2 separate regions of the Homo sapiens genome follow, and region 2 is linked to region 1. Evidence: fine-mapped expression QTL. A gene starts in region 1. The other region holds a variant in brackets. All regions are shown on one strand. Distances are from middle to middle. Region 1 holds the start of ITGAD (integrin subunit alpha D). Region 2 overlaps ITGAX (integrin subunit alpha X).

The links. PIP is the estimated chance that this variant, and not a neighbour inherited with it, causes the effect.
Region 2: its variant is the best candidate, but not a certain one, in a credible set for the expression of ITGAD in whole blood (TOPMed, PIP 0.83).

Annotation. Positions count from the first base shown.
Region 1 is chr16:31,390,332-31,395,705 of GRCh38, reverse strand. ITGAD (integrin subunit alpha D) reads right to left here and starts at 2,371. Exons shown (of 30, transcript NM_005353.3): 1 at 2,315-2,371; 2 at 1,365-1,470. The coding sequence starts at 2,345.
Region 2 is chr16:31,365,602-31,370,975 of GRCh38, reverse strand. All of the region lies in intron 14 of ITGAX (integrin subunit alpha X), which reads right to left. Among named protein-coding and RNA genes, the nearest start is that of ITGAX, 13 kb to the right of the region's middle. RefSeq lists an enhancer at 1,811-2,417. The variant A/G (reference allele first, on the strand shown) is at 2,942.

The DNA.
Region 1 (5,374 bases):
CTCTGGGACAGGAGAATGTGAGCTCCTGGAAGTGGGGGCAGGTTCATAATTTGTGGGTCCCAATTTGAAATAAAACTGTGGGGTCTCTTGGGGTTGGGGGGCTCTTACCTTTCTTCTGCTCTCTTCCTCAACCTGTCCTGACGTTTTTTATTTGCTATGTAGTGTCCCACTCCCTCGGGGTACTCCCAGAGTGAGCGCCCCTAACTGACTTTACCCAGCTCATGCCAGGGGCGGAAGGTAGCAGCGGTCATTGCTCCCACATGGGTGGGGGAGCCAGCAGCTGATACCCCTTCACCACCCTTCAGGAGGCGGTGGGAGGTGGGGCTGCTGCTGAGCTAAGGCTCCAAACCCCCAGTGCATCTCCCTTCTCCCATGACTTTTTTTTTTTGACGGAGTCTCACTCTGTCACCTAGGCTGGAGTAAAGTGGCACGATCTCGGCTCACTGCAACCTCCACCTCCCAGGTTCAAGCGATTCTCCTGCCTCAGCCTCCCAAGTAGCTGGGATTACAGATGCCTGCCACCATGCCCGGCTAATTTTTTTTGCATTTTTAGTAGAGATGGGGTTTTGCTGTGTTGGCCAAACTGGTCTCAAACTCCTGGCCTCAGATGATCTGCCCGCCTCAGCCTCCCAAAGCGTTGGGATTATAGGCGTGAGCCATGGTGCCCAGCCCTGCCATCATTCTTTACTTGCAAAACACAAATGCACAGATAAAATTTTTAAGAATTGGCAAGACAGGGTGGCTCACACCTGTAATCCCAGCACTTTGGGAGGCCAAGGCAGGAGGATTGCTTGAGCCCAGGAGTTCAGCCAGTCTGGACAACATAGCAAGACTCCATCTCTGTAAAAAGTAAAACAAAACAAAACAAAAAACAGGCATGATGGCATGCACCTGTGGTCCCAGCTATTCAGGAGGCTGAGGTGAGAGGATCACTTGTGCCCGAGAGTTTGAGGCTGCAGTAAGCTGTGATTGCACCACTGCACTCCAGCCTGGGTAACAGAGCTGGAGTAAAAATAAAAATAAAAATAATCAGGAATTTCAAGAGGTCAAGGGCAGAACATTAAACTCCAAAGTTAATGAGTGTGGGCCCTGTGTGACCATACTGGCCCCAAGAAGTGGGCCCTGCCTGGGAGGCAGGTTCAAGGCTTCCCTCCCGAGGTAAGGTAGGGTCTTGTCTAGAGTTTTGTGGCCTTTCCTGGGATTGAGAATAATAGGTGCTGATGTCAGGGCCTCCAAGGAGCCAAGGGAAGACTTCTCACCCCTGCTGGCCTTCCTCCAGGACACCTCCCTGGGGTAACCCACGTGTACCCATCCACAGGACTTGATGTAGTGGAGGTTGGGGAAGGAGGGTGAGTGGGGCCTACCGAGATCCACCGAACTGCACCACGCTCTGCCCAAAGCCGCCTGCATCCTCCTGGAAGATCGTAGGCTCCTCCACATCCAGGTTGAATCCATGATAAGAAGCCAGGACTGAGGAATATTTGGTGGGCGGGGAGGCTGGGAGTTAAAGAAGCCCCAATCCCTAGGACCTCCCAGCCTCTTTTTCTTTTTTTTCTTTTTTTTTTTTTTTTTTTTGAGATGGAGTCTCGCTCTGTTGCTGAGGCTGGAGTGCAACGGCACGATCTCAGCTCACTGCAACTTCCGTCTCCTGGGTTCAAGCGATTCTCTTGCCTCAGCTTCCCAAGTAGCTGGGATTACAAGTGCACGCCACCATGCCCGGCTAATTTTTATATTTTTGGTAAAGATGGGGTTTCACCATGTTGGCCAGGCTGGTCACAAACTCCTGACCTCAGGGGATACGCCCATCTCGGCCTCCCAAAGTGCTGGGATTATAAGCATGAGCCACCGCACCCAGCCAAGCCTGATTTTTGATGGCACGTGAATGTGACTCTGATGCAGTTTTCAGCAGGGGGCCTCTTCCCTACGTGCAGTCAGGACTTGGGGGAAACAGGCCCAGGGAGGTGATGTCCAACCTTTCCCCCTCCCTGGTGGCTTCTGTGGCCTTCCACTCCCGGGGGAGGCTGGGGAGACCTCTGTCACCCACACCAGGGACTCCATGAGTGGGAGCAGGGAAGCCTGGGACAACATAGCCAGCTGGAGAGGTAGCTTAGTCGCCACCTGAGCACAGCCCCTGAGCCCCTCTTCATTCAGGTCACACTCTACTGACTCCGGGCCACTCGCACATGAAGCACTCCCCTGCCTCAGCTCCTCATAAGAGTGGTTGGAGCCGACCACCAGCCCCCAGCCTGCCCTCCCAGATGGAGTCCCCTCAGAACTCCTCCAAGCTTCTCCCCAGCACCCTGGCCCCACTTACCACTCAGAAGAAGCACAGTGCCGAAGGTCATCCCTGAGCAGCGCGTTGAGGGGAAGTGGAAGGTTGGGGACAGAGCACAGAAGGTGCTCACCCTCCCAGGGGGTAGTTAAAATAATGATTCAGGGCCTCCACACAGCAGGAAGAGGGGCACAGTGGGTAGGAGGGGCGTGGTTAATTATGGAACAGAAGTGGGGGCAGGGGCCAACAACACCCTGGGGAAAAACCCTCATTCTGTCCCCCTCCACAACCTGCAGGGACCTGGCTTCCTTCTCCCAGAAGACCACCCTCCCCCAGGCCTCAGGAGCCAGTTGGTACCCAGGGAGCCCCGTAGCTCTCTGAGGTCCCACAGGAGTGGAAGGACAGGAAGCAGAATGGCTGCAGAGGTCTTGGCATGTGGATGTGAGCCGGCAGAGAGGCAGGGAGAAGGGGAGCTAGGCCAGGGTGTGGTTTCAAAAAGCAGAGCCCCTCCAGAGGAGAATGGACACCCAAAATAATAAAGTCATGCCATGGGCTACTACTCAGCAAGAAATAAGATCAAACTACAGATCAGATGCCATGGCTCATGCCTGTGGTCCCAGAGCTTGGCAGGTGGATTGCTTGAGGCCAACAGTTCGAGACCAGCCTAGGCAACATAGCCAGACCCTGTCTTTACAATAAATAACAAAGAACAAACTGCAGTTCTGTACAACAATACAGGTTAACTCAATTTTATCTTAAGTGAAAGAAACCAGACACCAGAATGCCTAATGTCTGGTTCCTTTCATATACAAGAGAATGGGCAAAATTCATCTACGAAGATAGAAATCAGAAGAGTGGTTGTCTATGGTGGGGCAGAGAGGAAACTTTTTTTTTTTTTGACAAGTTTTGCTATGTCGCCCATGCTGGAATGCAGTGGCATGATCAGGGCTCACTGCAGCCTCAAATTCCCAGACTCAAGCAATTCTCCCACCTCAGCCTCCCAGTCACTGGGATTACTGATGCACACCACCATGCCCAGCTAATTTTTTTGTTTTTTGTAGAGACGAGATCGCACTATGTTGCCCATGCTGGTCTCGAGCTCCTGGACTCAAGCAATCCTCCCACCTCCTCCTCCCAAAGTACTGGGATTACAGGCGTGAGCCACCACATCCAGCCAGGAACCTTTAGCATGTGTTAAATTTAGCATTTAACACAATATTTTAATATTTATTACATGGGGTTGGGGAGAAGATAAATGAGTGGTTGTTATTTATTTTCTGTGATTTTTCTGTATGTTTGAAATATTCCATGATTAAACATAAAAGTTCCTTTAAAATGTGAAAAAGAAAAAGGTCTATATATAAAAGGCTAGGAATAGGCCAGGCGCAGTGGCTCACACCTATAATCCCAGCACTTTGAGAGGCTGAGGTGGATGGATCACCTGAGGTCAGGAGTTTGAGACCAGCTCTGGCCAATATGGTGAAACCCCGTCTCTACTAAAAATACAAAAATTAGCTGGGCATGGTGGTGCGCACCTGTAATCCCAGCTACTCAGGAGGCTGAGGCAGGAGAATCGCTTGAACCCAGGAGGTAGAGTTTGCAGTGAGTCAAGATTGCGCCACTGCACTCCAGCCTGGGCGACAGAGCAAGACTGTCTCAATAAATAAAAAATAAAAAATAAATAAAAAGCTTAGGAATATACTTTGAAGGTTAAAATATAACAAGATCCCTACCTATAACATAAATTATTTTGTATATATATGTGACAATTATTTAAAACATTTGGCTGGGCACAGTGGCTTATGTCTGTAATTCCAGCACTTTGGGAGGCTGAGGCAGGTGTATAGCTTGAGGTCAGGAGTTCGGGACCAGCCTGGCCAACATGGTGAAACCCCATCTCTACTAAAAATACAAAGATTAGCCAGGCATGGTGGTGCACGCCTGTAATCCCAGCTACTCAGGAAGCTGAGGCAGGAGAATCGCTTAAACCCAGGAGGCAGAGGTTGCAGTGAGTCAAGATCACACCACTGCATTCCAGCGTGGGCAACAGAGCAAGACTCTGTCTCAAAAACAAAACAAAATGAAACAAACAAAACATTTAAAATGTAATTAAACATCAAGTGCAAATAATATGAAATAGTTTTCTATACAAAAATTTTACATCAATTTACTTGAGAGCTGACATTTAATGGACAGAAGAAATTAATTGTGATGCATTAACGATGCCCTTGCAGGAAACCGAGCCGAGGGCTGTGATTGCTAACTTCGAGGCTGACTTATCTACTGCCTTACAAAGACTGCCCAGGCAAAGTGGAGCGGCAGCCTTCTCCCTCTTGTGCTGAAAGGTTTGTGGCTGGCCGCACCCTGTCATCAGTTCTGTGGATCTGTGAACTTCTCCCTGTATTTGGAACCACAAAATAATTTGTTGGTGATTCTTCATAATTCAGAAATTTAAAGAGCTCTTCATTTTCTCCATCTTCACCACACCTCATCTTTTACACATTTCTATATCCCCTTTAATTTTGGACTTCCTTCTGTAAGTAGTGCTTGAAACTCACGATTTGCTGATATCAGCAACTATAAAATTCTCCAACTTTCCCTAACTCGTATTATCGCTTGTCTCAGCAAAATTTTTTGTTTTCCACTCATGTTTGGAGAGCAATGATAAGGGCAAAATGCAGTAAGGTAGTCAAATGCTCACAATCACTGCACGCTGCCAGGAAATCATCTTTCTCCCAGGCCTGGAGCTGGAGCTGCCAAGGCTCAGAGTCCACAGCAGCTGAAGGTGATGCCCCCAAATTCAGGGCATCCTCTGGGGACTTGATGGCGGCTCCACCCTTAAAGGAACCACCAGCTCTCAGTAAATTTTTAATTAATTAATCAATTAATTTTTATTTTGAGATGGAGTCCTGCTCTGTCGCCCAGGCTGGAGTGCAGTGGTGCAATCTCAGCTCATTGCAACCTCTGCCTCCCAGGTTCAAGTGATTCTCCTGTCTGAGCCTCCCGAGTAGCTGGGATTACAGGCACACACCACCACACCTGACTAATTTTTGTATTTTTAGTAGAGACGGGGTTTTGCCATATTGGCCAGGCTGGTCTCGA
Region 2 (5,374 bases), 25 kb after region 1:
TGAGTTGTGAACAGATGTCACCAAGAAGAACCTGAAAAGAGGAGGTAGGAGTTGGGAGATGATTGCTAAGAAACAGATGTAAGAGTGGAGATAGGAAGGGTGTCCTGGTGACCCGAGTGTCATTCATTCGATCAGTCTCTAGTTCCAATTCTGACTCCTCCACGTATGAGCCACGAGGCCGTGGGCAAGGACTCAATCTGTCTGTGCCTCCGTTTCCTCATCTTTCATATAATGATACTATTAGCTCAGAGTTTAGCCATGCTCAGGAGAGGAATTCCTACGGTTCTTAGAACAGCACCCAGGATACAGCCAGCAGTCAATAATATATCACAATGAGTATTAAGGCTGAAAGGGACCTCAGAGTTTGTCCAACCTCACCTCCCTCGTTGCAAAGATGCAGGAGAGAGGTTGGGGACAGTGTCAACCCCAGGTAGCCTTTAAGAGGCTGACTGCAGACCTAACACCAGACCGTCCAACCCCAGGCCCAAGTCCCCTTTTTGTTTCTTGCTGTCACTCTGTCTCTTCAAAGGACAAGAAAAAGCCGCGGTGGGGTAGGGAGTGGTCGCACCCACACCCAGATCCACCCTCCCAGGCACTGCCTCCCCTGTAGAACCTATCACCTTCATTCCCAGTGCTCATGTTATGCCCAATCCCTGGAAGAATGTGCCCTTTAAATCTCTGTGCACCCTGGAACTAGCAGCCATTAAAAGTGATAATAATGGCTGGACGCGGTGGCTCACACCTGTAATCCCAACACTTTGGGAGGCCGAGGCGGGTGGGTCATCTGAGGTCAGGAGTTCCAGACCAGCCTGGCCAACATGGTGAAACCCCGTTTCTACTAAATAAACAAAAATTAGCTGGGCATGATGGCACATACCTGCAATCCAAGCTGCTCAGGAGGCTGAGGCAGGAGAATCACTTGAACCCGGGAGGCAGAGGTTGCAGTGAGCGGAGATTGCACCACTGTGCTCCAGTCTGGGTGACAGAGCGAGACTCTGTCTCAAAAAAAAAGGTAATAATAATGGGCAGGGCACACTGGCTTTGTGCCTGTGGTCCCAGCTACTCAGGAGTCTTTGGCAGGAGGATCTCTTCAGTCCAGGAGTTCGAGGCTGCAGTCAGCTATGATTGCGCCACTGAACTCCAGCCTGAGTGACATGATGAGATTCTGTCTCTAAAAAATAAAAATTAAAAAAAAGAAAAGAAAAAAAGGAATAATAACAAAATAAAAAGAGAAATTTACCAATTACTGAGGGAGTCTAGAAAGGCTAGGTGTACCCCCTCTAAATCTAAAAGTTCAAAAATAAAAATAAAATATTTGATTGGTAAAAAATGCTAACAATCGTTTAAGCCTTTAGCAAGGCATAATCTTTTTGCTGGTGGAGGGTCTTGCCTGATGGTGACACGGCTGACTGATCACAGTGGCAACTGCTGGAGGTTGGGGTGGCTATGGCAATTTCCTAAAATAAGACCGTGAGGAAGTTTGCTGCCTGGATGGACTCTTCCTTTCATGAAATTTCTCTGGAGCATGCGATGCTGGTTGATAACATTTGGCCACAGTAGAGCTTCTTTGAAAGTTGGAGTCGTCCGGGAGGTGAGGGGCGCCTCTGCCCGGCCGCCCCTACTGGGAAGTGAGGAGACCCTCTGCCCGGCCAGCTGCCCCGTCCGGGAGGGAGGTGGGGGGGGGGGTCAGCCCCCCGCCCGGCCAGCTGCCTCGTCCAGGAGGGAGGTGGGGGGGTCAGCCCCCCGCCCGGCCAGCCGCCCCGTCCGGGAGGTGAGGGGCACCTCTGCCCGGCCGCCCCTACTGGGAAGTGAGGAGCCCCTCTGCCCGGCCACCACCCCGTCTGGGAGGTGTACCCAACAGCTCATTGAGAACGGGCCATGATGACAATGGCGGTTTTGTGGAATCGAAAGGGGGGAAAGGTGGGGAAAAGATTGAGAAATCGGATGGTTGCCGTGTCTGTGTAGAAAGAAGTAGACATGGGAGATTTTTCATTTTGTTCTGTACTAAGAAAAATTCTTCTGCCTTGGGATCCTCTTGATCTGTGACCTTACCCCCAACCCTGTGCTCTCTGAAACATGTGCTGTGTCCACTCAGGGTTAAATGGATTAAGGGCGGTGCAAGATGTGCTTTGTTAAACAGATGCTTGAAGGCAGCATGCTCGTTAAGAGTCATCACCACTCCCTAATCTCAAGTACCCAGGGACACAAACACTGCGGAAGGCCGCAGGGTCCTCTGCCTGGGAAAACCAGAGACCTTTGTTCACTTGTTTATCTGCTGACCTTCCCTCCACTATTGTCCTATGACCCTGCGAAATCCCCCTCTGCGAGAAACACCCAAGAATGATCAATAAAAAAAATAAAAAATAAAAAAATAAATAAAAAATAAAAAATAAAAAAAGAAAGTTGGAGTCAATTCTCTCAAATTCTATGCTGATTTATCAACTACGTTTATATAATATTCTTTTTTTTTTTTTTTTTGAGACACACTTTCACTCTGTCGCCCAGGCTAGAGTGCAGTGGTGTGATCTCGGCTCACTGCAACCTTTGCCTGAGGGGTTCAAGCGATTCTCCTGCCTCAGCCTCCTGAGTAGCTGGGATTACAGACATCTGCCACCACACCCAGCTAATTTTTTTAGTAGAGATGTTTAGTAGAGAGGTTTCCCTATGTAGGCCAGGCTGGTCTTGAACTCCTGACCTCAGGTGGTCTGCCCACCTCAGCCTCCCTAAGTGCTGGGATTATGTAATATTCTTAATCTTGTGTTGTCATTTCAACAATATTTATATCATCTTCACCAGGAATAGATTCCATCTGAAAAAAAAAAAAAACACTTTCTTTCCTCATCTGTAAGAAGCAGGTCCTCATCTGTGCAAGTTTCATCATGAGACTGCAGCAATTCAGGCTCCACTTCTAATTCTGGTTCTCTATTTCCACACATCCGCA[A/G]TCACTTCCTCCCCTGAAGCCTTGAGCCACTCAAAGTCATCCATGAGAATCAGAATCAGCTTCTCCCGAACTCGTGTTAATGTTGATATTTTGACCCCCTCTGATGAATCATGAATGTTCTTAATGGCATCTAAAATGGTGAATTTTTTTCCAGAAGGTTTTCAATTGACTTTGCCCAGATCCATCAGAAGAATCACTATCTATGGCAGCTATAGCCTTATGAAATGTATTTCTGAAATAATGAGACTTGAAAGTCGAAATTACTCCTTGGTCCATGGACTGCAGAATGGGTGTTGTGTTTGCAGGCATGGAAACAACACTAATCTCCTTGAACATCTCCATCAGAGCTCTTGGGTGATCAGGTGCACTGTCAATAAGCAGCAAACTTTGGAAAGAAATCTATTTTTCTGAGCAGCAGGTCTCCAGAATGGGCTTAAAACACTCAGTCAAGCATGCTATAAACAGATGTGCTGTCACCCCAGCTTTGTTCCATTTCTAGAGCACAAGAAGGGTGGATTTAGCATCATTCTTCAGGGCCCTGGAATTTTCCAAATGGTAAATGACCACTGGCTACAACTTGAAGTCCTACCAGCTGCATTAGCCTCTAACAAGAGAGTCAACTTGTCCTTTGAAGCTTTGAAGCCAGGCATTGACTTCTCTGAAAGTCCTAGATGCCATCTTCTTCCATCGAAGGCCATCTCATCTACACTGAAAACCTGTTGTTGAGTGTAGCCACCTTCATCAGAGATCTTCTGGAGAACTTGCTGCGCCTTCTCCATCTGTACTTGCTGCTTCACCTTGTACTTTTATGTTGTGGAGATTGCTTCTTTCCTTAAACCTCATGAACCCTGCTGACTTCCACCTCTGCTGACTTCCAATTTTTCTTCTGAAGCTTCCTCACGTCTCTCAGCCTTCATAGAACTGAAGAGCATTCGGACCTTGCTCTGGATTTGGCTTTGGCTTAAGGGGATGTTGTGGCTGGTTTGATCTTCTATCCAGATCACTCAGACTTCCTTCATATCAGCAATTAGGCTGTTTCACTTTCTTATCATTCATATGTTCACTGGAGTAACACTCTTAATTTCCTTCAATAACTTTTTCTTTGCATTCAGAATTTGGCTGTTTGGTGCAAAAGGCCTTCAGCCCATCTTGGCTTTTGGCATGGCTTCTTCACCAAGCTTAATCATTTCTAGGTTTTGATCTAAAGTGAGAGATATGTGGCCAGACGTGGTGGCCCACGTCTGTAATCCCAGTGCTTTGGGAGGCCAAGGCAGGCAGATCACTTAGAGTCAGGAATTCCAGACTAGCCTGGCCAACATGGTGAAACCCCATCTCTACTAAAAACACAAAAATTAGCCAGGCATGGTGGCACCCACCTGTAATGCCAGCTACTCAGAAGGCTGAGGCAGGAGAATCACTTGAACCCCAGAGGGGGAAGTTTCAGTGAGCCAAGATCACACCAGTGTACTCCAGGCTGGGTGACAGAGTGAGATCCTGCCTCAATAAATAAATAAATAGTGAGAGACATGTGACTCTTCCTTTCAGTTGAACACTTAAAGACCATTGTAGAGTTATTATTTGGCTTAATTTCAATATCATTGCATTGCAGGGAATAGGGAGGCCACAGGAGAGGGAGAGAGAGACAGGGGAGCTATCAGTGGTGGAGCAGTCAGAACACACACATTTATGAAGTTCGCCTTCATATACGGACGTGCTTCATGGTGCCCCAAAAAGAGGACAATAGCAACATCGAAGATCACTGATCACAGATCACCATCACAGACATGATAATTACAAAAAAGTTTGAAACATTGTGAGAATTACCAAAGTAACACGGAGACACAAAGTGAGTGCATGCAGCTGGGAAAACAGCACTGATAGACTTGCTCAGTGCAGGGTCGCTGCATACCTTCAGCGTGTAAAAAATGCAGTATCTGCAAAGCGCATAAAACAAGGTATGCCTGCATGTGATGGGTTGTGGGAATTGGTACGAACTGTTTGCAGTTTCATGACAACACGTGGGCCCTTGTTATTCTCAACAGTCTTTCACCCTCTTCTTTAGATTCCCCTTCAGGTGTTAAACTATGTGTTTTTTGTTTGTTTGTTTGTTTAGAGATGGAGTCTCACTCTATCACCCAGGCTGGAGTGCAGTGGCGCAATCTCAGCTCACTGCAACCTCCGATTCCTGGGTTCAAGCCATTTTCCTGCCTCAGCCTCCCAAGTAGCTGGGATTATAGGCATGCGCCATTACGCACAACTAATTTTTGTATTTTGGGTAGAGACGGGGTTTCCCCATGTTGGCCAGCCTAGTCTGGAACTCCTGACCTCAAGTGATCTGCCTGCCTCAGCCTCCCAAAGTGCTGGGATTACAGGCGGGAGCCACCGCGCCTGGCCAGTTGTTAAACTATCTTAATGATAATTAAAACAGATTAT